7 linked regions of the Homo sapiens genome follow. The protein of the gene in region 1 purifies or fractionates together with the protein of each later gene. This does not show direct contact. Each region holds a gene or a part of one and is shown on either strand. Other genes may lie near its edges.

Region 1 (3,500 bases):
CAGAAATCCTACAGCTGGGAAGCTTATTGTTTTCTGAAATTTCCAAATTGTTTAGGTCCTAGGCTGACTGAGTACTCCCTATGACTGTGTCAGAACCAGGCCTTTGAAGATATTCACATACCTCTGGCCCGGGTACCCCTCAGAGTATTTGTTATTTAAGCAAGAGCCTAGGGCCTCCAAAACTGCTCGGCTGGCGAAATTCTCCGAGGCAATCAGCTCCAATCCAACCCTCTGCCGGTTACTCTCCTTCTTAATGATGTTGTAAACCTTATGAGAAGAAAACAGATGCTTGATATTTGGAAATTTTAGTTTAAAATTTTGCTCTGATCCAAATTACAACCTCCTAAAGAGAAAAGACACTCTTTCACATTATGGAATAGAATGAATCCTCCTCAAAGGTTTTAGTATCTGAGAAAGCACTAATCAATGAATTAACAAAAACAAAATGATAGCCAGGTGCGGTGGCTCACGACTGTAATCCCAGCACTTTGGGAGGCCGAGGCTGGTGGATCACCTGAGGTCAGGAGTTCTAGACCAGCCTGGCCAATATGGTGAAACTCCATCTCTACTAAAAATACAAAACTTGGCTGGGCGTGGTGGCTCACGCCTGTAATCCCAGCACTTTGGGAGGCCGAGATGGGCAGATCACCTGAGGTCGGGGGTTCGAGACCAGCCTGACTAACATGGAGAAACCCTCGTCTCTACTAAAAAATACAAAATTAGCCGGGCATGGTGGCACATGCCTGTAATCCCAGCTACTCGGGAGGCTGAGGCAGGAGAATCACTTGAACCCGGGAGGCGGAGGTTGCAGTGAGCCGAGATCACGCCATTGCACTCCAGCCTGGGCGACAAGAACAAAACTCTGTCTCAAAAACAAACAAACAAAAAAACAAAACTTAGATGGGTGTGGTGGCAGGCGCCTATAATCTCAGCTACTCGGGGGGCCGAGGCAGGAGAATCGCTTGAACCTGGGAGGTGGAGGATTCAGTGAGCCGAGATCGCGCCATCGCACTCCAGCCTGGGAAACAAGAGCGAGACTTCATCTCAGAAAAAGAAAAACAAAATGATTGAAGAGAAAGTTATCTTTAAGTGTCCCACCTAATTTTTAACACCACCATCCTGTTATTTTTATTCCTACATTTCACCAAGTTTCTCCCTCCCTGAACCTTATTCCTTGTTCTTCTTCCTTAAAAGAAAAGATGCTTTAGGCCGGGCGTGGTGGCTCACGCCTGTAATCCCAGCACTTTGGGAGGCCGAGACAGGTGGATCACGAGGTCAGGAGATCAAGATCATCCTGGCTAACACAGTGAAATCCCGTCTCTACTAAAAAAAAAAAAATAATACAAAAAATTAGCCAGGGCGTGGTGGCTGGCACCTGTAGTCCCAGCTACTCGGGAGGCTAAGGCAGGAGAATGGCGTGAACCCGGGAGATGGAGCTTGCAGTGAGCTGAGATCGCGTCACTGCACTCCAGCCTGAGCAACAGAGCAAGACTATATCTCAAAAAAAAAAAAAAAAAAAAAAAAAAAAAAAAAAAAAGGCCGGGTGCGGTGGCTCACGCCTGTAATCCCAGCACTTTGGGAGGCTGAGGTGGGCGGATCACGAGGTCAGGAGATCGAGACCATCCTGGCTAACATGGTGAAACCCCACCTCTACTAAAAAATACAAAAAATTAGCCGGGTGTGGTGGCAGGCACCTGTAGTCCCAGCTACTCAGGAGGCTGAGGCAGGAGAATGGCATGAACCCAGGAGGTGGAACTTGCAGTGAGCTGAGATCACGCCACTGCACTCCAGCCTGGGCGACAGAGCAAGACTCTGTCTCAAAAAAAAAAAAAAAAAAAAATTAGCCGGGCATGGTGGTGGGTGCCTGCAATCCCAGCTAGTCAGGAGGCTGAGGCTGGAGAATCCCTTGAACCCAGGAGGTGGAGGTTGCAGTGAGCCAAGATCACGCCATTGCACTCCAGCCTGGGCAACAAGAGTGAAACTCTGTCTCAAAAAAATAAATAAACAAGTAAAATAAAATAAAATAAAGGTGCTTTCAGATGTCTAGATAGATCTATATTCCCTGTGAACTGTCAGGAAAGGGTCAACTGTCAGTGATCTCTCCCCTTCTCGCTTTTCTCCAGAGCACCCTGCACAGTGCTCCACACTTTGAAGAAACCCAGCAATCTTTAAATTTACCCTCAAAGGATTTGTAGCCATTTTGTCTGCCACCACCTCTAAATCCAGCAGGATAATACTCATTTCAAGGCTGTCCCTAATTAATTTGTAATTAGAACTAAAGATTAAATGAAGGCCTCCAACATAAAAAAATCTGTGAAGACCCCAAAAATCTCACCTCAACATCACTGTCTTTGAGGGGTTGTGCCAGCATCTTGTCATGTGAGGACCACAGGTCAGCATCCTTGTGGGCCCCGTTGACTGGCATCGTCATTGCACTGGTTCGAAGCTGCCTAAAAAAATGGGAAAAACATGTGTAGCTTCCAGAATTAAATTTATTTATTTTATTTATTTTTTATTTATTTTTGAGATGTAGTCTTTGTTGCCCAGGCTAGAGTGCAGTGGCATGATCTCGGCTCACTGCAACCTCCGTCTCCCAGGTTCAAGAGATTCTCCTGCCTCAATCTTCTGACTACAGGCGCATGCCACCATGCCCGGCTAATTTTTTGTATTTTTAGTAGAGACGAGGTTTCACTGTGTTAGCCAGGATGGTCTCAATCTCCTGACCTTGTCATCCGCCCACGTTGGCTTCCCAAAGTGCTGGGATTACAGGTGTCAGCCACCGCGCCCCACCTATTTATTTTTATTTTTTTGAGACAAGACTCTCACTCTGTCACCCAGGCAATGGCGTGATCTTGGCTCACTGCAACCTCCGCCTCCTGGGTTCAAGTGATTCTCCTGCCTCAGCCTCCTGAGTAGCTGGGACTACAGGCGTGCGCCACTACGCCTGGCTAATTTGTGTATTTTTCGTAGAGATGGAGTTTTATCACGTTGGTCAGGCTGGTCTTGAACTCCTCTCAAGTGATCCGCCTGCCTCGGCCTCCCAAAGTGCTGGGATTACAGGCGTGAGCCACCATGCCTGGCCGCAGCATTATATTGAATCAAAGCTCATCGAAACCTGTTAGTTCTATCAAGTTGATAAACTAACACTTTTTTTAGCCTTTCCCTCAGAATTGCTTGGTAAACACGAGCATGTTCTATTGCAAAACCACCATGTGGAACTTCTGGTTCCTTTCCAAACTGCAGACGTCAGCTCATCTCCCTCAGAAATGAGAACTGACCCTCCTCCCCACCTGCAGGGAGCCCAACTCCGCCTCCTCTCAGCCAAACTTCTCATGGATATAGCTTATCTCCCACAACTAAACTAAGTTCCTTGAAGGTAAGGACTGAGTGCTACTTTTTAAAAAATCTCCTGCGGTACCCAACACTGCTATACATGAAGAATATTTTCCGGCCGGGCACGGTGGCTCACGCCTGCAATCCCAGCACTTTGGGAGGCCGAG
Region 2 (3,955 bases), on another chromosome or scaffold:
AATATTGGCCGTGACGTTTACGATGGAGAGCAAAGGATCACACCTTTCCACCCCTACAAAATCTTGGCCTCGGGTGCGGTGGCTCACACCTGTAATCCCAGCAGGCCAAGGCGGGCGATCACTTGAGGTCAGGAGTTCGAGATCAGCCTGGCCAACATGGTGAAACTCTGTCTCTACCAAAAATACAAAAAAATTAGCCAGGCGTGGTGGCGGGCGCCTGTAATCCTAGCTACTTGGGAGGCTGAGGCAGGAGAATCGTTTGAACCTGGGAGGCAGAGGTTGCAGTGAGCTGAGACAGTGCCATTGCACTCCAGCCTGAGCAACAAGAGTGAAACTCTATCTCAGAGAAAAAAAAAAAAAATCTTGGCCTCTTAACTAGCTGTGTAATCTCGAGCGAGTTACTTAACTACGTTGTGCTTAATTTCCTCACCTATAAAATGAGGATAACACTACCTAAACTAAAAAGTTGTTATAAGGACTATAAGAGTTTATATATGTAAAATACCACTGCAACTGAATAAAATACCACTGCAACTGAATGTGGCCTTTGTTGAAGAAAAAACAATTGCTCCAAGTTGTTTACATTTCATTCAGTGAACTTTACTGTGCTGGGGTCTAAATAAATCACTCATGGTGAACTTCTTATCCTTTCATAGAAGAGAAACACATTTACATTTCCAGTTTTTAAAGAAGATATGACCATAATGAAGATAAGTGAGGAGTGGGTATAGGTACAGAAACAAGACTAATCAGTTGATAAGTACCTAAAGTGGGTGACAGATATAGGACCCAAGGGATCATTATACTTTTCTACTTTTGATTGTGTCTGAAATGTTTCCATAATACAAAGTTTGGTGGGGAAAAAAAAGAGACTACAGATGAGGATTTTGCTTTACGAAGGTTCCATTACCATAGGAGGACCCAACTTGGCCCAATGGAAAGCACGCAGGTCTGGACTTTGAATTCTCATTCGGTTGCTGATGAGCAAAGAGCCAACTTGCCTGCCACGATTCTCACAGGTTTCCCATGAAAACCACAGAGACAAGACGCAAAAAGACATCCGAAAATATACAGTTATGTATTTGTTAATAAAGTAAGGCATTCTTACCATCTGAACTTGTTAAACTTAGGGAAGCTGTGTACTGCTCACATAGCTGGGAACTGCACAAAGAAAAGGTAATAACCTACCTCTACATGGATCTAGAAACCAAGAAGCAAATTTTCCACATGGCAACAAAAAGCAGACAGATATCCTTCATCTCTTTCATTCTAAAATATGTTTCAGGGGTGGTCATCTCGTTCCTCCCAACTCTCACTGCCGTTTATTAAATAGCTATCCTATAGTTTTTTTCATTTTTCTACCTTTCAGTAGACTTCCTCCCTCTCCTCCCAGAATGCCACTCCTTGACATCAGCAATGGCATCCTGGTTAATCATTTCTAAGTCCCTTCTTTCCATGGCCTAGTCAGCTAATGAAGGGCTTGTGAACGTGGGAATGAATGATTTGCACCTTCATATGGTTACCAGAGATTCTAAGGGAAGGCAGGTAAATTGGAATCTTCATGATGTCGAGTTTTATTAAATCACCAGTCAAAGTAACTGAAGTTTTCCTTGCATAACAAGTGGCCCACCTAAGTTAATCTGTTTAAGGAAGGGGCTAAGACTAGTGTCCTAAAATCAGGAACAGCACGGGTTCCAATCCTACTTTTCCCTTACTCAACTGTTTAAACTTGTGCAGAAGATGCTAAATCTGTCCAGTGTGTTGTCCAGGGTCTTTCTCTGTCACCCAGGATGGAGTGCAGTAGTGCCATCTCGGCTCACCACAACCTCCGCCTCCTAGGTTCAAGCGATTCTCCTGCCTCAGCCTTCCCAGTAGCTGGGATTACAGGCGTGTGCCACCATACCGGCTAATTTTTGTATTTTTAGTAGAGACGGGTTTCACCATGTTGGCCAGGCTGGTCTCGAACTCTTGACCGTAAGTGATCAGCCCACCTCGGCCTCCCAAAGTGCTGGGATTACATGCGTGAGCCACCTAGCCCAGCCGTCCAGGGTCTTAAAAGTTGCTAAATCTCTCTGAGCCTCACTTTTTTTCCCCATAAAGTGGGGAAGTATTACACCAACCTCACAGCGCTACTGGGAGGAGTAAATAAGGCGTTTTGCTGCTGGTGCCTGGAATACAATACTTCCTGGTTAATGTGATCACACTCCTTTCTGATGGAACTAGCTATGCCTTACCTGACTGCCAGACCAGCATCCCTGAGAGCTTTTGCAGTCCCTCCGGAAGCGACCAGATTCAAACCAAGAGCGGTCAGGTTTCTTGCAAATTCCACAAGGCCGGTTTTGTCAGAGACACTAAATAAGGCTGAAAGAGAAGACATTTTTTCTCATGATTCGCAGCACATTGCACTGTGTTCTGCAAGGCCTTGGGAGGGTCTGGGGGAGGAGATTCTCGAATCGCAAGGCCAGCACCTGGACCCTGCGTTCGCAGGCCTGGTCCGGGCCTCCCCAGGTCTTACACCCGCGAGCTGCTCTAAGGCGGGCCCCACGCAGGCTGCGGCCCGGCCGGGGAGCGGGGACGCTGGCTTTCAATCCCGCAGCGCCGCCCCTGCAGTGCCGGGTCCCGCCGGCCGCCGCCAAGGCGGGAGCGTGGGGGGCCGCAGGCGAGGACGCAGACCGCGCCGCTCCGCTAGGGCCTCACCGAGCTGGCCGGGAGCCATGGCTGCAGGCACTGGGTTCAGGGCGAGCGGGAGGCAGCAGCGGCGGCACCACGTGCGCAGGTAGGAGGGCTGCCGGGATGTGGCGGCTCAGGAAGCGAGGGGGCGGAGCTGTTTCCGGGCTTATCACGTGGCCCGCCGGCCCTGCCCGGCGCCCTGCTCTGCTCAGTTTCAGATGCAAGATCCGCGCCCCGGGGCTGAAGGGAACGGCGGGATGGGGTGGGGCTCTGCCTGGCGCGCCTGGGCGGAGTGCTTGGGCTGGAAGGGATCCTGCCTGCGATCCCGAAGTCCAGGCGTGGGAGCCAGCGATCTGCCCACGACCCCAAAGTGAGGCCACTCCACGGCCTCTGGGGCAAATGCCTGTTATTCTAGGCAGCCGGTCCCCAGAAGCTGGAAAGTACGTAAAAGTGCCAGAAGCTCCCATGCTGAAAACTAAACAAAAGGAATAGTTCATATAGCGGCAAAGCTGGAAAGTATCTGGACAGTTATCTACCATCCTCCCTTTTTGTTTGTTGTTTTTTTGTTTTTCTGGGTTTTTTTGTTTTTTTTGTTTTTTTTTTTTTTTTTTGAGATGGAGTTTCGCTTTTGTTGCCCAGGCTGGAGTGCAATGGCGCGATCTCGGCTATGTCACGTGCAACCTGCAACCTCCACATCCCGGGTTCAAGAGTTTATCCTGCCTCAGCCTCCCGAGTAGCTGGAATTATAGGCAGGCGCCACGATGCCCGGCTAATTTTTGTATTTTTAGTAGACATGGGGTTTCGCCATGTTGGCCAAGCTGGTCTCAAACTCCTGACCTCAGGTGATCCGCCTGCCTCGGCTTCCCAAAGTGCTGGGATTACAGGGGTGAGCCACCATGCCCAACTTGTTTTTTGTTTGTTTGCTTGCTTGCTTGTTTGCTTGTTTGTTTTGAGACAGGGTCTCGCTCTGTCTCCCAGACTGGAGAGCAGTGGCACCATCTCAGCTCACTGCAACCTCTGCCTCCCAGGTTCAAGAAATTCTCCTGCCTCTGCCTCCACACCCGTCTAATTTTTTGTTGTTGTTGTACTTTTTTTTTTTTTTTTTTGTATATTTAGTAGAGATGGGGTTTCACGGTGTTGGCCAGGCCGGTCTTCAACTCCTGACCTCAAATGATCTGTCCACCTCAGCCTCCCAAAGTGCTGGGATTACAGGTGTGAGCCACCGTGCCCGGCCCCATCCTCCTTTTTAATAGGCTTAAAAAATAAAACCAAGGACCAATGATTT
Region 3 (3,500 bases), on another chromosome or scaffold:
GGAATCAGTGCTCCTTGGAGAAAAGGCTGATTCTAGGCCTGTGGTAGGTAATACACAAGGTGAGCCTAGAGCATTTTGTAATACCAGAAAGTTAAAAGTGCTCAAAAACAAACAAACAAACAAAACAAGAACAAAAGTCTCACAATGACAGGAGTATGTCAAAGGAATACAGGAACCAACTAAAAGAGCTCCCAGTGGCCACAGCTGAAACAATTTGAGCAACAAAGTAATAAAGTACTACTGGATTTACCCTTAAGTATAAAATAAATATCCATGAGTCAGACTGATATAAATAAACGACTGAAAGGGGAGAATAGACAAAAAACTCTTATAGAAGATTTTTCAAAAATTTATGTAGACACTTCACCCTTAAAGAGGTAAAGCATAATTCCCCAATTCCCAATTGTGTGCTTCACAGAGAGACTTTCTTCTAAAAAGTACAATATACAAAAGGAGGGGGAAAACAGAGTAACTTTACAGTGGACAAAACTGATGAACATTATCTCAAGCCAAGTAGTCAAGGTTAATATCAATGGTACTGTCATATTAATAGTTTGTATTCTTGGCCAGGTACAGTGGCTCACGCCTGTAATCCCAACACTTTGGGAGGCTGAGGTGTGTGGATCACCTGAGGTCAGGAGTTCAAGACCAGCCTGGCCAACATGGTGAAACCTCTCTCTACTAAAAATACAAAAATTAGCCGGGCATGGTGGCATGTACCTGTAGACCCAGCTACTTGGGAGGCTGAGACAGGAAAATCGCTTGAACCCAGGAGGTGGAGGTTGCAGTGAGCCGAGATTGCGTTACTGCACTCCAGCCTGGGCAACAGAGTGAGACTCTACCTCAAAAAAAAAAAAAAAAAAAAAAAAAAAAGTCTGTATTCTTGATATGATGTGATGGGAATGGCACTTTACTTCTGTGATCTTCCTCCTAGAAACATATCACCCAGTCTAATGAGAAAAACAGCAGACAAGTCCCAACTGAGGGACAGTCTACAAAATACCTGACCAGGCAGTAATCTTCAAAACTATCAACTTGTCATCAAAAACAAGGAAATCTGAGAAACTGTCAAAATGAAAGGATACATGACCACTAAAGGTAATATGCTATCCTAGATGGGATCCTTGAACAGAAAAAAAAAAAAAAAAAAAAGACATTGGGGAAAAGTGAGGTAATCTGAATAAAATATGGACTTTAATAATTACGTGCCAATATTGGTTAATTGTGACAAATGTACTATGCTAATGTAGTATGTTTTTGTTTTTGTTTTTTTGAGATGGAGTCTCGCTCTGTCATCCAGGATGGAGTACCGTGGCATAATCTCTGCTCACTGCAACCTCCGCCTCCTGGGCTCAAGTAATCCTCCCACCTCAGCCTCCCAAGTAGCTGAGATCACAGATGGGCACCACCATGCCCAGCTAATTTTTTGTATTTTTGGTAGAGATGGGGTTTCACCATGTTGCCCAGGCTGGTCTTGAACTCCTGAGCTGAAGCAATCCACCTGCCTTGACCTCCCAAAGTGCTAGGATTACTGGCATGAGCCACTGTGCACAGCCTATCTTATAATAGGGGAAAGTGGGTATGGGAAGCTCTATTCTATCTTCACAGTAATTCTGTAAAACTAAAACCATCCAAAAATAAAAGGGTCTATTACAAAATAGTGTAAGAATACTGTGCTATATTGCTATATTTTATATAGCTACTAATAACACATTTTTTGTTTTGAGACGGAGTCTTGCTGTCGCCCAGGCTGGAGTGCAGAGGCACGATCTCGGCTCACTGCAACCTCTGCCTCCCAGGTTCAAACGATCTTCCACCTCAACCTCCCAAGTAGCTGGAATTACAGGTGCAGGTCACCACGCCCAGCTAATCTGTATATGTATATTTTTTAGTAGAGACAGGGTTTCACCATGTTGGCCAGGCTGGTCTTGAACTCCCAACCTCAAGTGATCCACCCACCTCGGCCACCCAAAGTGCTGGGATTACAGGCGTGAGCCACTGTGCCCGGCCTAATAATTTATTTCCATACACTTGAAAGAAATAGTCAAACTGAAAATTTAATTACAGGTTGATTATCCCTTTTCCAAAATGTTTGAGACTAGAAATGTTTTGGATTTCAGATTTTTTTGGCATTTGGAATATTTCCATATGCATAATGAGGTATCTTCAGGAAGGGACCCAAGTGTAAACACAAAATTCATTTACATTTCATATACACCTTATACACATAGCTTGAAGGTAATTTTATATAATACTTTTAATAATTTTTTGCATGAAACAAAGTTTGTATACACTGTACCATCCAAAAGCAAAGGTGTCACTATCTCAGCCACTCATGTGGACAGTCTGTGGTTGTTTGACATCACTATCATTCCCGTCTCTGAATTTATATGCTACGTATAACCAATCATTTCTTACACATACACATGGCATTGTATTGCCCTTTGCGGGCATGCTTGCGTAGGTGCATCTGGCTGTGTGAGGAAAAGATATATGGCAGCTGAAGGGGGCTAGGCAGGTCTTTTTTCTCTTGGAGAAACTGTTGTACACCTGCATTCTGACTTTGATTCATCACATAAAGTTGGGTGTAGAATTATGTACTTGTAGCATCATGTTGGGCTCAAAAAAGTTTTGAATTTTGCAGCATTTTGGATTTCAAGTTTTTGGATTAGGAATGTTCAAACTGTACTACCATTTTAACACTATTTTTATAAAAATTCATATTCAAATTCTTGTATTACAAAACTCGATGAACTGAAATCCTTAATACCATTAACTTGGAAATTTAATGAGTCAAATTTAGGTGTCAGGTACTGAGCTAGGTTCTAGGGATTCAAAAATGAGCCAAAAAAGAAAACAAGATATGGACCTTACCTTCATGAAGTTTATAGGCCACTGAACAGAAAGAAAATCTTACAGTCACATGAATAAATGTAAATTGCAAACTGCGGGAAATGTATGATGCTATTACCTTAATGTGGGAAGTGAGCATATTCTCTAAGGATGCAAAACTTCAGCTGAGGTGTGAAGGATGACTAGGAACTAACAAGTGAAATGAAATGAAAGTAAAGAAAGAATGGTCCAGACAGAGAGAAAAGCATGTACAAAAGCCTTGCAAAAATGGCAGGGAGCAAGGTGCATACAAAGGACTAAAGAAGGCCAGCATGGTTGAACTGGAGAGTTATGCAGAACATGGTACAAGATGAGTCTGGAGAGCTAAAGGCTGTTAAGCAGTTTTATTTTGATCCTAGAAGCAATGGAAAGCCATAAAAGCACTGGGGGAGGAAGAAGGAGAGTGATAATCCAATGTGTGTTTCAAAATAAATCACTGTGCCTTCAAGATGGGTAATGAATTAGAGAGGACAGATAAGAATGGAGGCTATTGTAAAAGTTTCAGGCAAGATGAAGTGGCAGTAGTGGAAACAGGAAGAAATAGAAAAATTCAAGAGTCATGTAGAAAGTAAGACTTTAAAAACTTGTTCAATCATTGGATCTATCAG
Region 4 (3,500 bases), on another chromosome or scaffold:
TGACTGTCCCCATAAGGGAGAAAGTAAGTGAAGGTTTTCCATGCTGCATCTCCTCAAAAGGAGCAATGGTGTTGACTTCTCAGTTTCTGGCTCCTGAGCATGTGCACAGATATCTTCTAGAAGAGAATAGATTTTTACATAGTGGGGGTTGAGCTGTTATAATTTGAGAAGACTGGAAATGGTGACCTGGAGCCAGTACATGTCCATGGGATCCATGAAGCAGGGGGATTTGCTTTGTTATGTTTTGCAGGGGATGTAAGTAAAACAGCAATCAAGTTTTGAAAAATTTTAACATGAGAAAATGTTTACAATAATGTTACAGGAGATAATATGTAATAATAATGGCAATAGGTAAATAGAAAAAATACTGAAAGAAGTTACACCAAAATGTTAATTGTGATTATCTTGGATCGATGAAATCATGGGTACTTTTTGTTTTCTTCTTTATGTATTTGTACAGTTTGTCTATACAGACTAATTCTAATTTTCCAAAATGAGAATATGTTATTTTCCTTAACAGAAAAATAAGATAGAGTAGTGACAGACTATAATCAACAGAACCATTAATATGGAAACAACCTAAACGACCTGTGATAGGGGATTCATAAAGACAAACTGAAGCTATGGTACAGCCATATAACATAGTGTGCACTTATCACTGTGATCAGAGTGTGACATTCAAAGATTTTTATTATACGTTGTTAAGTGGAAAAACATAGGATAGGAAAAAGAATATATAGTAAATCCTATATAGCACATGTAAATATATGTAAATGTATATGTAAATATGTACCTTTCTGGAAGAACATAAATGAAAATGTTATGGGGAATGCGATTATTGGTAATGCTTTTATTTTTTGCTTATCTGTTTTTTCTAATTTTCTGCACTAAAACATGGATTGTTTACACAATAAGTGAATGTTTATATAACTCAAATCCAAAGACATTCTTAGAGTAATAATGTCCTATAAGAGATAGTAGCAAATCATATATTTATAAGCAATGTTGCCATCTGCTGGATCACAGGGAGAAACTCACCCTCTTTCTTTTTCATTTGGAATTAGGAAATGAAGGCCAGGTAGAGTGGCATGTTTCAGACAAATGCCTAGACAGTAATAGTGACTTAACACAAGAGTTCTTTTGATTCACATAAAAAAGAAGTAATCTAGTGACCGAGTGGGACCCGGATCCTGAGTACCGCTGTTCAATTTCATGTAAAAATTTAAAAATATCTTATACTAAGTGTGTTTGCAGGCACACTTATCCATAAAGACAATTCTGAGTTATCCATTTTATGGATTTTTTGGGGGGAAAGGTTTATGTCCTAACATAACTTTTTTCAGCTGCTTGGCATGGTACTCAGCCCACAGCAACACTGCGAAAATTTGTGGAGTAAATGATTACTTCTGGCTGACTTAATGCAACCAACAGTTTGACGTATTTTTATGGAATATAAATTAATTTATATATGAACCAATCACAGCATTAGCTCTCTTGATATGTAAACATAAAATAATAAAATGCTTCCTAAAGCCAAATGATGGTAGTTTATCTGCCATTTTGGATAAACTACCTTGCCACTTCTCATCATCATCGGACTCACTTCTTCATTTCATTCAGCACACTCACTGAATGTAACTTTTCTCACTCACCGTTTTTATTATGTGCATAAAAACCTAAATATTTTCACAGTATCTCTATGGAAAAATACTGTTAATGTTTACCTTCCCCGTTATTCCAGTTTCCCAGAAAGCCTAGTGGCTGGATGTCATAGTTTGGGCCGCTGTTGCAAAATGCCATAAACTTGTTTGCTGGTAAACAAGAGGAATGTATTTCTCACAGTTGTGGAGTCTGGAAAAGTCTGGGAAATGCAGGATCATGGTGGGAAATGCAGGATCACGACTCTGGCCCATTCAGGATCTGGCGAGGGCCTGCCTGGGGGAGGGACCACTTCCTGCTTCCTGGACACAGTGCTGTCTTGCTGTGTCCTCACATGGTAAAAGGGGGAAGGCAGCTCTCTCAGGCCTCTGTTATGAGGTACTAGTACCACGAATGAGGGCTTGGGCCTCATGAACGAACCACCTCTTAAAGGCCCCACCTCCTTAGACCATCACATTGGGAGTCAGGATTTCAACATTGGAGTTTTGGGGCAACACAGACCATAGAAGTGGTAGACTGCTGCCTTTGAGAACTAATCCTTGCTTTCCTTACCACACTGCAGGTGAGCTGATCAACCTTGCCATGTACTGTGAGAGGATAAGGAGGAAATTTTGGCCAGAGTGGCACCACGATGATGACAATACCATCTATGAGTCTGAGGAGAGCAGCGAAGGCAGCAAAACCCACACCCCGCTGCTGGATTTTAGCTTTTACTCAAGGACAGAGACCTTTGAAGATGAGGGAGCAGAAAACAGTTTTTCCAGAACCCCAGACACAGATTTTACTGGACACTCACTCTTTGATTCGGATGTGGACATGGATGACTATACAGACCACGAACAGTGCAAGTGACGTCCAGCCTCACTGACCCTCTTCCTTGGGACCTGCCACTCCCTGGGTCGGTCCATTTTCCCAGGTAGCAATCCATCCGAGCTGGGAGGAGATCTTCGTGCTTGGCAGAGTTTTCACATGCTAACTGGACTATAGCAGCCTTATTTCTTTTTTGTACAAACAAAACACAGAACCATTCAGATGACTCCATTGAAAACAAACAGGCAAAAAATAATGTCAGCATGGTTCCTGAAATCCATTTTTGTTTTCATTAGAAAACTATTAATAATATTGTGTGGTAGAGCAGGTGTAAGAGCTGGTTGTCAGCTGATAGTTTTTATGATGATCCTCTTCAACCCTGAGGTCTTAATTGTGAGATGGATTCTTGAACCTCCTTCCTCCACCAGGATTTGAAGTAATGAGAGATATCATCAGAAAAATGTTTTACGGTGGCTGCTTGTACTTTATGTGTGTATATTGTATGTTGAGACATAAGTCAAATAAAATCCACAGATATTAAACGAACACCTACTATGTGCAAAGCACTGTGCTAGGTGCTAATCAGTATACATTTTATTCTAAGCCCTGCCAGTGACTAGCTGTGTGATTTTGAGCAAATCTCTTATTAACTATTGGGTGCCTCATTTCTCCCACCTGTAAAGTGGGGATGACAATACTCTCCACCTACCTACCTCACAGGGGTGTTGTGGGGATTCATGTGGTAACATTCGTACGGCGCTTTAAACCTCTTAGAAGTGGTGCGACATAAACACAGCATTTTATTCTTTATTGCACTTCATGCATGTGAAGATTTGAGGGCAAAGGAATTCCATATCCAGGCAACCACCACCACAGTCACCTGCAAAAGCTGAGCAGATGAAATACACACAAAGGTACACTTAGGACTTTGTCATGATTCCTTTCTGTAATCTTGGCTGAATCAAAATCTTTTGTTCAAAGAACATTGGAAATGTTTTTACAAATTATCGACAGCTACAAACAGTCTTCAA
Region 5 (3,500 bases), on another chromosome or scaffold:
GCCATGTTAAATGAATCTCCTTAAAACTGGAATTAAAATTTGTGGATAGTGAGGATTCCTTGTAGTCAAGGAATCTATTATTTGGGATGAAATCTGAAGGGTTACATGGGAAAATAGAGTTAAAACTCCATCAAATGCTCTTTTATTCACAAATCAGAAATTTTTCAGTTTTTCAGTTTTTCAGTTTGATATATTTGTGGCTTGGTAAATTAGTAATTTAAATGGTAAAAATATAAATGACTAGAAATAATCTAAGTGTTAATAAGGAAATGTTTAAATAAATTATGATTTATGTACTTAACTATCCATTAAAATGCTTCCAAATATTTAGTAAAACAGGAAAATGCTCATGAAACATAAGTACAAATACAAAACTATATACAAAGCATGATCAGCATTTTGTTTAAAAATAGACTATTTTCAGTGCTTGCCAAATGTCAGTTATTTGTATAACACCTTCAAGATATTTGCCATATTCACACATATACATGAAATATGAGTTGGTTTTCTTTGCATTGAATTAAAAATTTAAGATTATATACTTTATTTCTGAGTATGAGATGCTATAAATTGTAAGACACACCATTTTATGTACCACTGAGAAAAAAATGCTACCCAGTAAGCTATGATCTGACACCAGTTTTAAGACACAGTCCAACATCAGCAAGATCAACGTGTATTAGAGCCAATCAAATATGGTAGCTTTTTTGGACCTTGTCTTAAGCAATAATATCCAAAAAATATAGCTTTGATTTATTCAGTGTATTTTCCAATAGGCATTAAAATAAATACCTAGTTACTAGAGTAAAAAAGATTAAAAGGTATAATCATGTAGCAAAAGTAGCATACATACTACATAGTGAATCACTGACCTATCTATATGATCAACTATGTAACTTTTAATATCAGCTATGTAAATACAGGTGCTTTATGAAAATTACCTGTTTGTACAGTTTGCTTACATATGTGTAATATGTGGAGCTGACTCTTAAATCAGAGAATAGGTTCTACATTGGGTATAGGCAAAATGTCCCTTGAAAATCTCTTAAAACCATTATATCAAGCATATGTGTTTTGTAATACACAGCCTGGTAGAGTAAGGTTTCTGAATTACTGAACTAGACTACAGGAAAAAGGAAAATCAACATGAAGTCTGGGCAATCAAACTCCTGCTTACTTGCAGAGTTTATTCCATACTATTTTAACATTTAGACATTATAACTTTAATATATGGGAATAAATTGGCTTAAAATTGTAAAGATTAAATTAGATAGTGGGAGATCTCTTATCCACTGATTAGGTTCTAAATTAAGGTTAGAGGGGAGTGAGGAAGAGGGATTGAGGTGGGACTAGTAAACATGAAAAGAAATCCAGAATGGACAAAGATACATTTTCTTTTGGGTTATTTGGTCTTGTATATTCAATATGAAAGTAAATTATTAAACCTTGGATTTCAAGAAAAATTGTTTACTGAAAATAGAGACTGAAGAGATTCTCTTCATGAAAAAAAAAAAAAGGTACTACTTTGAAGATACTATTATCTGAGGTGAGAACTTTCCATTACTTGAAAGAACTAGCTATGTGTTGCCACTTTTCAATAGGTCACAGTGTGAGATTTAACCCCACAGTCACAGTAAGTTTTAATTGTCACTCACAACAGATTATCTCAGTCGGCTTTTGAAATTCAGTGCTCACCTTTAAAGTATTTCACAGTTTTAACTCTTAATTCTAAAGTAGCATCTTCATCGCATACAAAAATAGTCCGGGGATGCTGCTGGAAAGCGGAAACAGTCCACATGTGATTGACTCCTTCTTCTATTGCTTTGTACAGGGCAAATGCCTTGTGTGCCCCTGTTATAAGGATCATTACCTGAAAAATTATGAACATCAATTGTTAAAACTTGTTCCAAATGAGTAAGAAGCTCTATTTTTTTTAAACGAGAACTTAAGCACCAATATTTTTTTCTGAGAGAAAGAAAAATACATAGCTCCACATAATAGTTCAAGGTATTCATTTCTACTTTTTAAGATTAACAAGCACAAAATGTTGCTTCTAGTTTAACAAAGCAAAACAATATCTTGTTATGGGTTATTAATGCAAACACTATAATACCTGTAACTTTTAACATAGTGAATGATGATGTATAAAAGAAACCTGGGACAATGAAGAAAAAGAAACAAAAGGACTGTGTTGCAAAAGCAGAGTTACAAATCTATAAATAATTTATACAATCTAGAATGATACACCAAGTTGCTGTAGTCTAGATAAGCAAAAGATACTATGTCAGAAAAGCAAAGACTCTAAAACAACAGGTAATTTGAAGAGTTATCAAGAAAAGCCTGAAGAGCATTTCACTGAACATGTGCTATTCAAAGTTGACTCAGAATAAAAACTGGATTTAAAAAAGGATTAGGGATCTACTTAAACATAGGAACTGTCTTATAAGCACATAGGAACTGTCTTATAATCACATATGACTGATATTACCCTTATAAGCTACAGAAAATCCAAGCTCTTGGTCCCCAGGCCCTAAATGCCAATGAAATAATGCAATGACATGTTGCAAATGTGAATGTGTATGTGTCGGAATCTTTTCTTTATCATGTTTAAGCTGGAAATTGATCCCATTTAACACCTCATCTACACACATATTTTTGTAATATAATCTTTAAACTTTTTTTCCTCATTACAATTGTTTTAAAAAACAATGTTAAAATTGCTGTAGTTCTAAAATATAACAAATTTTGTATTACATATTTTATAACTAGACCTAAAATGGGAGGAAATACTCTGCACTCTCCTTGAATTACCTCAACTCCTCAAAACACCACCATGAGAGAAATACTATTCTTACTCATATTTTAAAGATAAGGAAACTGAGGCATATTCTGTAACTGGCCCAAGGTTTTGGTAAGATACAAACAAGTAGTTTTTTTCTACAGTGCATATTCTTAGCGATTAACAATTACATTACATTGCCTCTTGTAAAAGTTCTAACAATTAGACAATATGAGCTAAGAGTCTTTTCATTATGGATGCACACTCTAAAAAGGTAATGGGACAGGTGGCAAGAAATCTCAACATGAAGTATATATACTGAGGAAAAAAAAGACAACTAAACTTTTATTGGTGAGAAAAGGTAAGTACATACCTGGCATTACCATTATGAAGGGAGTGGAGGGAAAGGAGGCTGCTGGAAGGGAAGCTTAGTATAGGATGAAGAATTCATTATTGGTGTTTATCTATGGCTAAGGCATAGATAAAACAAATTGGTCTTTAAATAGACTTGATCTGATATGTGATTAGTTATATCATACCTGTTCTACTCTCAAGGAGATTATTTCTCATATCATGGGAAAGGACAAACTATATGGAATAATTTGTTATGTTTGTTCAAACTGCAGAATCCCTAAATTTAAAGAAGCAAGCTAGGTGTGGATACCAGGTGATTCTTATGTACACTAATGTTTGACAACCAGTGCTCAGGCAGATGTTGCAT
Region 6 (3,500 bases), on another chromosome or scaffold:
TCGCCCAGCCTTCCCTTAGTCTTTTCATGTGCGGGATTTAACGCTTGTTCCAATAAAGTTCAGAGGATGTAAGGGCCATCAACTTGGAGTGATAAGTGATAAAGGCCTGGACAAGCGGGTAGGCTGGTCAGTCACTGTGTGTTCGGCTTTCTCCAGGGTCGTCCGGGCTGGCATATCGAGTGCTCGGCCATGGCAGGCACCCTCCTAGGGGCTTCGATGGACATTCACGGAGGTGGGTTCGACCTCCGGTTCCCCCACCATGACAATGAGCTGGCACAGTCGGAGGTAGGTGAAAACAGAGTCCCCTTGTCAGGTGCAAGAGCACAGTGTTCATACTGCAGTGGAGGAAAAGTCAGCCCAGGCCTCAGAAGGGCCTCTCTCACTAGAACTTGACACCTTCATCGGGGCTTGTGGGTGGAATCTGAACCCTGATCATTTAGTGTGGTTTCCGCATTGACAGCCTGGCCTTTGGCAACAGACTAGCCTGGATTTGAACCAGTTGTGTTACCTGCTGGCTTATTAACCTGGGCTGTCCTTCCAAGCCCTGCCTGCACCACCTGGAAAACGCAGCTCCTGCCTGTGGACAGCACCAACAAGGCAGCAGACAGTGCAGGTGGCAGGAGGCGGCCCCAGTAACACATGACTGTTGACATCCTTTGTCTCTTTCCACGCAGGCCTACTTTGAAAACGACTGCTGGGTCAGGTACTTCCTGCACACAGGCCACCTGACCATTGCAGGCTGCAAAATGTCAAAGTCACTAAAAAACTTCATCACCATTAAAGATGCCTTGAAAAAGCACTCAGGTATACACTGGCTTCTCCCACAGACCCCCCAACCACCTTCTCATACATGTGTAATGGCTGTAGCACTCGGGAGAATAAGGGCGTTGGCTGTCTTGTGTCCCCCCACAGCACGGCAGTTGCGGCTGGCCTTCCTCATGCACTCGTGGAAGGACACCCTGGACTACTCCAGCAACACCATGGAGTCAGCGCTTCAATATGAGAAGTTCTTGAATGTGAGTCCCCAGCCCCTTCCTGGAGGTTGGTGGAGCAGCCTCCCCTGCACAGTGGGCACCTTGTGCAGTGGTGATAGGTGCACCAGCCTCCCGATGTCTCTAATGGAGACCAGCACATGGGTGGAAGCACCTCCATGCTAGTGGGTATAACAGGCTCGGGGCCACTCCTGAAATGGCTGACGGCTCAGCAGAGTGGACAGAGGCCTCGTCCTCCTAGTCACTGCAGTGCACGTCCTTCTGACTTGTACTTTCCACCAAATGAGCATCTGTAAACCTAAAGCAAGAGCATGTTTCTGTCAAAGAAATATCTTTTCCTTTCTTTCTGACCACTTGTGTAATTCTGGTCTTTCAGATTTTTACCAAAAATAAAATCACAGCAGTAGAAAGTTGTAACAGATATTTCAGGATGGAAAAGTTGCCTAAATGCTGTTAAACTGATTTTTCTAACTTCAGGAGTTTTTCTTAAATGTGAAAGATATCCTTCGCGCTCCTGTTGACATCACTGGTCAGTTTGAGAAGTGGGGAGAAGAAGAAGCAGAACTGAATAAGAAGTAAGGTGGTGCCATTTCTTTGGGGTTTTTGAGCATGCCCATGTTCTATGCCTAGCCTCGCATCTTGGCCACCATGTGTCCTGGACTGTCGAGGAAGGGCTGGGGACACTGTCGTACGTTGTGCAGAATTAATTCAGGATAGGCGGCTCTGCTAATGGGAGCTGCTCTGGGTGTTGAAGTGCATGGAGAATTTCTTTTTTGTTTTTTCTTTTTGAGACGGAGTTTCGCCCTTGTTGCCCAGGCTGGAGTGCAGTGGCGTGATCTCGGCTCACCACAACCTCCACCTCCCGGGTTCGAGCGATTCTCCTGCCTCAGCCTCCCGAGTAGCTGGGGTTACAGGCATGCGCCACCATACCTGGCTAATTTCAGATTTTTAGTAGAGGTGGGGGTCTCTCCATGTTTGTCAGGCTGGTCTCGAACTCCCGACCTCAGGTGATCCGCCCACCTCAGCCTCCCAAAGTGCTGGGATTATAGGCGTGAGCCACTGCGCCTGGCCACATGGGGAATTTCTATGGTGTGTTTTCAGGTCTGACTTCACATTCCTTCCTCTTTGTTGCTCAGCTTTTATGACAAGAAGACAGCAATTCACAAAGCCCTCTGTGACAATGTTGACACCCGCACCGTCATGGAAGAGATGCGGGCCTTGGTCAGTCAGTGCAACCTCTATATGGCAGCCCGGAAAGCCGTGAGGAAGAGGCCCAACCAGGCTCTGCTGGAGAACATCGCCCTGTACCTCACCCATATGCTGAAGGTAAGCCAGGCCCCAGGCAGGCGTATCCCTCAGCCTGTGTGGACACAGGAGCCAGGCCCCAGGACTGGGAGAACAGAGGCCTCTGGTGCCCCCCAGTGCTGTGCCTGGTGCCCAGCACCTCTGAGACGTGGAGATATGCTTCTGTCCTCTTTGGTTCCTGGTGTGCTTTTCACGCGTTAGAAATAACACCCATAAGCGGAGCACAGTGGCTCACATCTATAATCCAACACTGTGGGAGGCCAGGTGAGTGTATCACCTGAGCCCAGGAGTTCAAAACCAGCCTGGACAACATAGTGAGATCCCGGGTCTATAAAATATATTAAAAATTAGCCAGGTGTGGTGGCACACACCTGTTTTCCAGCTGCTTGGGAGGCTGAGGTGAGGGGCTCGCTTGAGCCCAGGAGGTTGAATAGTGAGGTGTGATTGCACTACTGCACTCCACTCTGGGCAATAGAGGGGAGACCCTGTCTCAAAACCAGACAAAAATAAGTAACATCCATATAGTTGTCCTTACTCAGAGCTATTTCTTTCCTTTGACTCCGTTTCCCTCTACTCCCATCTTGGAGTTTGAAAAGCAAAACCACGCCAGGCGCTGTGGCTCACGCCTGTAATCCCAGCACTTTGGGAGGCCAAGGCGGGCGGATCACAAGGTCAGGAGATGGAGACCATCCTGACTAACACGGTGAAACCCCGTCTCTACTAAAAAAAATACAAAAAACTAGCCAGGCATGGTGGCGGGTTCCTGTAGTTCCAGCTACTCGGGAGGCTGAGGCAGGAGAATGGCATGAACCCAGGAGGCAGAGCTTGCAGTGAGCCAAGATTGCGCCATTGCACTCCAGCCTGGGCGACAGAGTGAGATTCCATCTCAAAAAAAAAAAAAAAAGAGAAGCAAAACCAGGGACAAGGCCTCCTCTCTGAACACATCCTGTGCAGAGCCCTTCCCCGCAGTGCACCTTGAAAGGCCAGCAGGGCCTGGACTCAACTCCCCTCCCCTCTCCTCCTCTTTCCTTGTTGTTGGGCTCCAGTGGCTTCTGGCTGAAACAGAGCTGGAGAGGGTAGCTGTGAGTCAGGGCCATCCTGGAGCAATGAGGGCACCCTCAGGCTCGGGTTTCTGGGGCTCCTGGAGCTGCTGCTTCCATCTCTTTCCTGGTCTTGGGGCACCCCCTCCCGTGAACGAGGAAC
Region 7 (3,500 bases), on another chromosome or scaffold:
CAGAGATGCCTTCTCCCCCCGGACCCCTAGCTTCTGGCCTGGGGCTGTGGCAGAGATGGAGAATGCTGCATACCCAGGGTGCACAGGGTCCTCAGAGCCGTCGCCTGCAGGGCTTCGTGAAAGATGGCCACAGCCCCCAGCTCACCCTCCAGGGATGTGGGGCTGCCCCACCGAGTGTCCTGGGTGCCTGCGAGGGTAGAGTCGATGCTGCCCTCCTGCAGGGGGGCCACCAGCCCGGACCCCCAGCCAAGCCCTGTGGAGGCTGGGACTGACTGGGAGCGGGTGAGGGCGGGGTGAGTGTAGGCCAGGGTGGCGGGGACTGGTGGTGTGGGCAGCCCTGTGGTGGTGGTCGTTGTGCGGTATCCAGCGGAGCCGATACAGCAGGAGGAGAAAGGCTGTGGGGCCGGGGTTGGGGGAGCGGTCAGGTCACAGCAGAACCTGGGGCTCCGCCTACAACCAGTTCCTCACAGTGACCCCCATGGCTGCATGGACCCCAGTGGCTAAAGTCAGGCCTGTGGGGCAGCACGGGACACAAGGGCTCCAGGCTACACCTGCCCACTGTGTTCCAAGTCCTCCCATCTACCCAAGGCCTCCCCAAACCTTGCTTGGCACACCTCACTGAGGGAGGGGCAGCGAAGGGGTGCTGTCTTGACCAGATGGCCGTCTTTGTAGACATGGACCAGGTTCTGGCTGAAGGGCCGGCGCCCAGGCACATGGACGATAGCCACGCAGTGCTAGAACAGAAGCCTCACATTAGGCCATACTTGGGACTCAGCACCCCTCTCTCTACTGGGCCACATGAGAAGGATGGGGTCTCACCCAGGCAGAGTCGGCAAAGGACACTTCGGGCAAACTCATGGTCAAATACTCCTTCCGTGTGCACACAGCCACCACCAGGGTCCCGGCCGCCGTGAAGAAGGCCTCAAACCCTGAGCCGCTGCTGGTAAAGAAGCTGGGGGCAGGCAAGCCAGTTATGTCTGCTTGTTCCTGCTCACCCTGGCAGGAGGTCCCTGGCCCCTGGCAGTCACCCACCTGTACAGCTGCTTTCGCTGGAGTGGTCGGGTGGGGGCAGGGGTAGGTGCTGTATCCATAGGGTGCAGACAGAGCCAGGCATGAAAGGTGAAGCCAGGCCCTGGCCATCGCTGTACAGGGGGTACCATGATGCCCGCCATGCTGGGCGTGAGGTCAAAGTAGCGCAGAGCACGTGCAGGACCCTGGTGCCTGGCCATGCCTGATAATGTGCGGATGACAGCACCTGCGTGTCGGGCCTTTCCAGCCTCAGCTCCGCCTGGTTCCGAGTCCAATCCTGGCCGGGGGCGCAGCAGGTGACGCAGCTCCATGGGCCTTATTGATACACGGCCCAGTGCTTGTAGCAGTGCCAGCAGCTGCTCTTGGCAGCGGGCCTCCAGGGCTAGCCCTGTGCTGAGTGTCTCCAACAGGCAGCCCACCAGGCCTGCCTGCACACAGGTGGCACGGCTGGCAGGGCAGCTGTCACAGAGCCACCTGAGGCGTTGCGCTAGGAAGAGCCGCAGCTCAGCGGTGGGCAATGACGGCAGCCACTGCGCCAGCACCAGTACCGGCTGCTCGTTGCGGATTGGTGGAGGTGGGCACATGCTGTGGTCACCCTCCACAGCCTGTGGGTGGAGAGAATGACAGTCCCTGGTCAGCTGTGGCACCCTGTCAACAGTGGGACTTTCTGGCTCCATTTACTTGCCTACGGCAGCAGTCAGCAACATGATCTACTCCATCCTGCCCACAGGTTGTGTGTGAGGCTCAGGAAAGTCAGAGGGGCACAGATGACAGTCACTACTACTAAGAGTCCTTCAGCATTGTTAATCCCTCAACCTTAGTTTTCAGCCTGGGTTGGCCTAACCCCTAACTGCATGTTCCTAAGATAATCCTGGGGCTTGCTCACATGCAGTTGCTTCCAGGACCCCTACAGGGCCAGAATCCTCATTCCAGTGACACTAACAGACATGGCCAGGCTACAGGTAACAGTATGTACTGGCCGCAGTCAATACGGTCCCCCAGGGTGGAGAGCTCACCATCTGTGGTAACCCTGACTCAGTTCTGGTTGCCTTTGGGACCCTGGTCCCAAGCCCCTTCCCTCACCATGTTGAGCAGCTCTTGCAACAGCCGATGGGTGGGGGGACCATGGCTCTGCAGAACCTCCTGCAGGTGAGGGTAGCCGATGCGCTCCTTAAACACCTCCTGTGTAAGGTAGTATGGGGAAGAAGTGAACACATACATGGGCCGGAGGGCAAACTCAGACCCCCTGGAAACTCTGGAGGGGCATCATGTTTTGGGGTTCCCTTGCGTAGCTCTGCCTCTGGGTGACAGTGCTGGTGGGCAGTGGGCTGCAGAGGGATGGGGGGGACGTGAGTACATCTCAGAAGGCTGTAGATGGAGGTGGGCCTACAAGTGTCCATTCCCCATCCAGCCCTGACAGAGAAGATGCAGCTCCCAGGACAGACTGGCGACCACACCTGCCCAGTGAGCTTTAGGGCAGGGCAGTCACCTCCCAGCTCGCCTGCTTTGCTCCAGGGAGCAGGATGCTTATGGCCACCGGCCAGGCCTGTTCTGGGGATATGGTCAGTTGAACTCCACCCCGCACCCCTACTAAAGCTGCAGTGCAGCAGCCTCACCTTGGCCGAGGGGGAGTCACTCATGATGCAGGTCAGCACTCTGACTACATGGACTGCAATGGCGTCTGTGTCTTGGTCCAGGACCTTGGGGTGGGGAGGGGCCATCAGGAGAGGCAGGGGCCAGGGTGTCACAGCTGGCAGCCCCCTGCAGTAAAAAAGGTGCAGAGCCAAGCACCCCAAGGCATGTGGCATGTGCTGGATCAGCAACTCTGTCAGAGCACCAGGCCTTCTACTCCTTGCCCCAACTGCTGTGACCCTATCATGACCTAGGGCCCTCTCTGAGCAGCTCAGCAAGACCCACTCTAACAAAGGCTGGGAAGGGCCTCACTGGGACAGATTAATGGTGGACACTCTGACTGCACCCTCCAGTCCCCCTTTCTCTAGTGGAGTTAGGGCCCTACCCCCAACCTGTCTCCCTAAAGCTAGACACATGAGTACAGACAGGCCAGCAAGTGCCCCATCACCCACAGTGATTGACAGGGGTCAGAGATTTAGGGACAATCAATCACAGGATGTTAGAACCAGAAGAACCTTCGAGACCTTTAAGTCCCACCTTGCCCCTTCCCCCTAGATCCAGGTGGGGGCACTGAGGCTCAGCCTGGCTGAACCTGACAGCCAGAGGCATGCTGCTGCCTCTCCTGCCCCACCCTGAGGGGGTCAGGGGTTGGGAGGGCTTGGAGAGTTTCTCAGCAGGGACTAGGTCATATTCGGCTCCATGGGGCCTTTGGTCCCAGCTTTGCCTGACTCCCCAAGTGACCTAAGGCATCAGTCCTCCCCCTCCAGGCCTCAGTGTCCTCATCTGTAAAAACAGAGGGGAGTCACTTTGCCCTGCCTGCTTTGCAGATGAATAGACGT

What was found.
Region 2: the proteins of SHMT1 (region 1) and ATIC fractionate together in Homo sapiens (co-fractionation; one large-scale study listed by BioGRID). This does not show direct contact.
Region 3: the proteins of SHMT1 (region 1) and ARFIP1 fractionate together in Homo sapiens (co-fractionation; one large-scale study listed by BioGRID). This does not show direct contact.
Region 4: the proteins of SHMT1 (region 1) and FAXC purify together in Homo sapiens (co-immunoprecipitation; one large-scale study listed by IntAct). This does not show direct contact.
Region 5: the proteins of SHMT1 (region 1) and GNPDA2 fractionate together in Homo sapiens (co-fractionation; one large-scale study listed by BioGRID). This does not show direct contact.
Region 6: the proteins of SHMT1 (region 1) and CARS1 fractionate together in Homo sapiens (co-fractionation; one large-scale study listed by BioGRID). This does not show direct contact.
Region 7: the proteins of SHMT1 (region 1) and NBEAL2 purify together in Homo sapiens (tandem affinity purification; one large-scale study listed by IntAct). This does not show direct contact.

Annotation. Positions count from the first base shown.
Region 1 is NC_000017.11:18,353,551-18,357,050, forward strand, and holds part of SHMT1 (serine hydroxymethyltransferase, cytosolic), read right to left. Parts: intron 2,451-3,500; 5' UTR 2,432-2,450; coding exon 2,336-2,431; intron 268-2,335; coding exon 122-267; intron 1-121. UniProt on the Homo sapiens protein: Interconversion of serine and glycine.
Region 2 is NC_000002.12:215,310,904-215,314,858, reverse strand, and holds the start of ATIC (bifunctional purine biosynthesis protein ATIC), read right to left. Parts: upstream 2,801-3,955; 5' UTR 2,717-2,800; coding exon 2,698-2,716; intron 2,563-2,697; exon of another isoform or gene 2,469-2,562; intron 2,362-2,468; coding exon 2,235-2,361; intron 1-2,234. UniProt on the Homo sapiens protein: Bifunctional enzyme that catalyzes the last two steps of purine biosynthesis.
Region 3 is NC_000004.12:152,786,454-152,789,953, reverse strand, and holds part of ARFIP1 (arfaptin-1), read right to left. Parts: intron 1-3,500. UniProt on the Homo sapiens protein: Plays a role in controlling biogenesis of secretory granules at the trans-Golgi network. Mechanistically, binds ARF-GTP at the neck of a growing secretory granule precursor and forms a protective scaffold.
Region 4 is NC_000006.12:99,280,175-99,283,674, reverse strand, and holds part of FAXC (failed axon connections homolog), read left to right. Parts: intron 1-2,221; coding exon 2,222-2,511; 3' UTR 2,512-3,500. UniProt on the Homo sapiens protein: May play a role in axonal development.
Region 5 is NC_000004.12:44,706,057-44,709,556, forward strand, and holds part of GNPDA2 (glucosamine-6-phosphate deaminase 2), read right to left. Parts: intron 1,871-3,500; coding exon 1,696-1,870; intron 1-1,695. UniProt on the Homo sapiens protein: Catalyzes the reversible conversion of alpha-D-glucosamine 6-phosphate (GlcN-6P) into beta-D-fructose 6-phosphate (Fru-6P) and ammonium ion, a regulatory reaction step in de novo uridine diphosphate-N-acetyl-alpha-D-glucosamine (UDP-GlcNAc) biosynthesis via hexosamine pathway.
Region 6 is NC_000011.10:3,015,924-3,019,423, reverse strand, and holds part of CARS1 (cysteine--tRNA ligase, cytoplasmic), read left to right. Parts: intron 1-156; coding exon 157-285; intron 286-674; coding exon 675-804; intron 805-883; coding exon of another isoform or gene 884-912; coding exon 913-1,016; intron 1,017-1,469; coding exon 1,470-1,567; exon of another isoform or gene 1,568-1,568; intron 1,569-2,128; coding exon 2,129-2,318; intron 2,319-3,500. UniProt on the Homo sapiens protein: Catalyzes the ATP-dependent ligation of cysteine to tRNA(Cys).
Region 7 is NC_000003.12:46,993,166-46,996,665, reverse strand, and holds part of NBEAL2 (neurobeachin-like protein 2), read right to left. Parts: intron 2,791-3,500; exon of another isoform or gene 2,751-2,790; coding exon of another isoform or gene 2,730-2,750; coding exon 2,646-2,729; intron 2,212-2,645; coding exon 2,113-2,211; intron 1,635-2,112; coding exon 1,033-1,634; intron 953-1,032; coding exon 820-952; intron 735-819; coding exon 615-734; intron 396-614; coding exon 74-395; intron 1-73. UniProt on the Homo sapiens protein: Probably involved in thrombopoiesis. Plays a role in the development or secretion of alpha-granules, that contain several growth factors important for platelet biogenesis.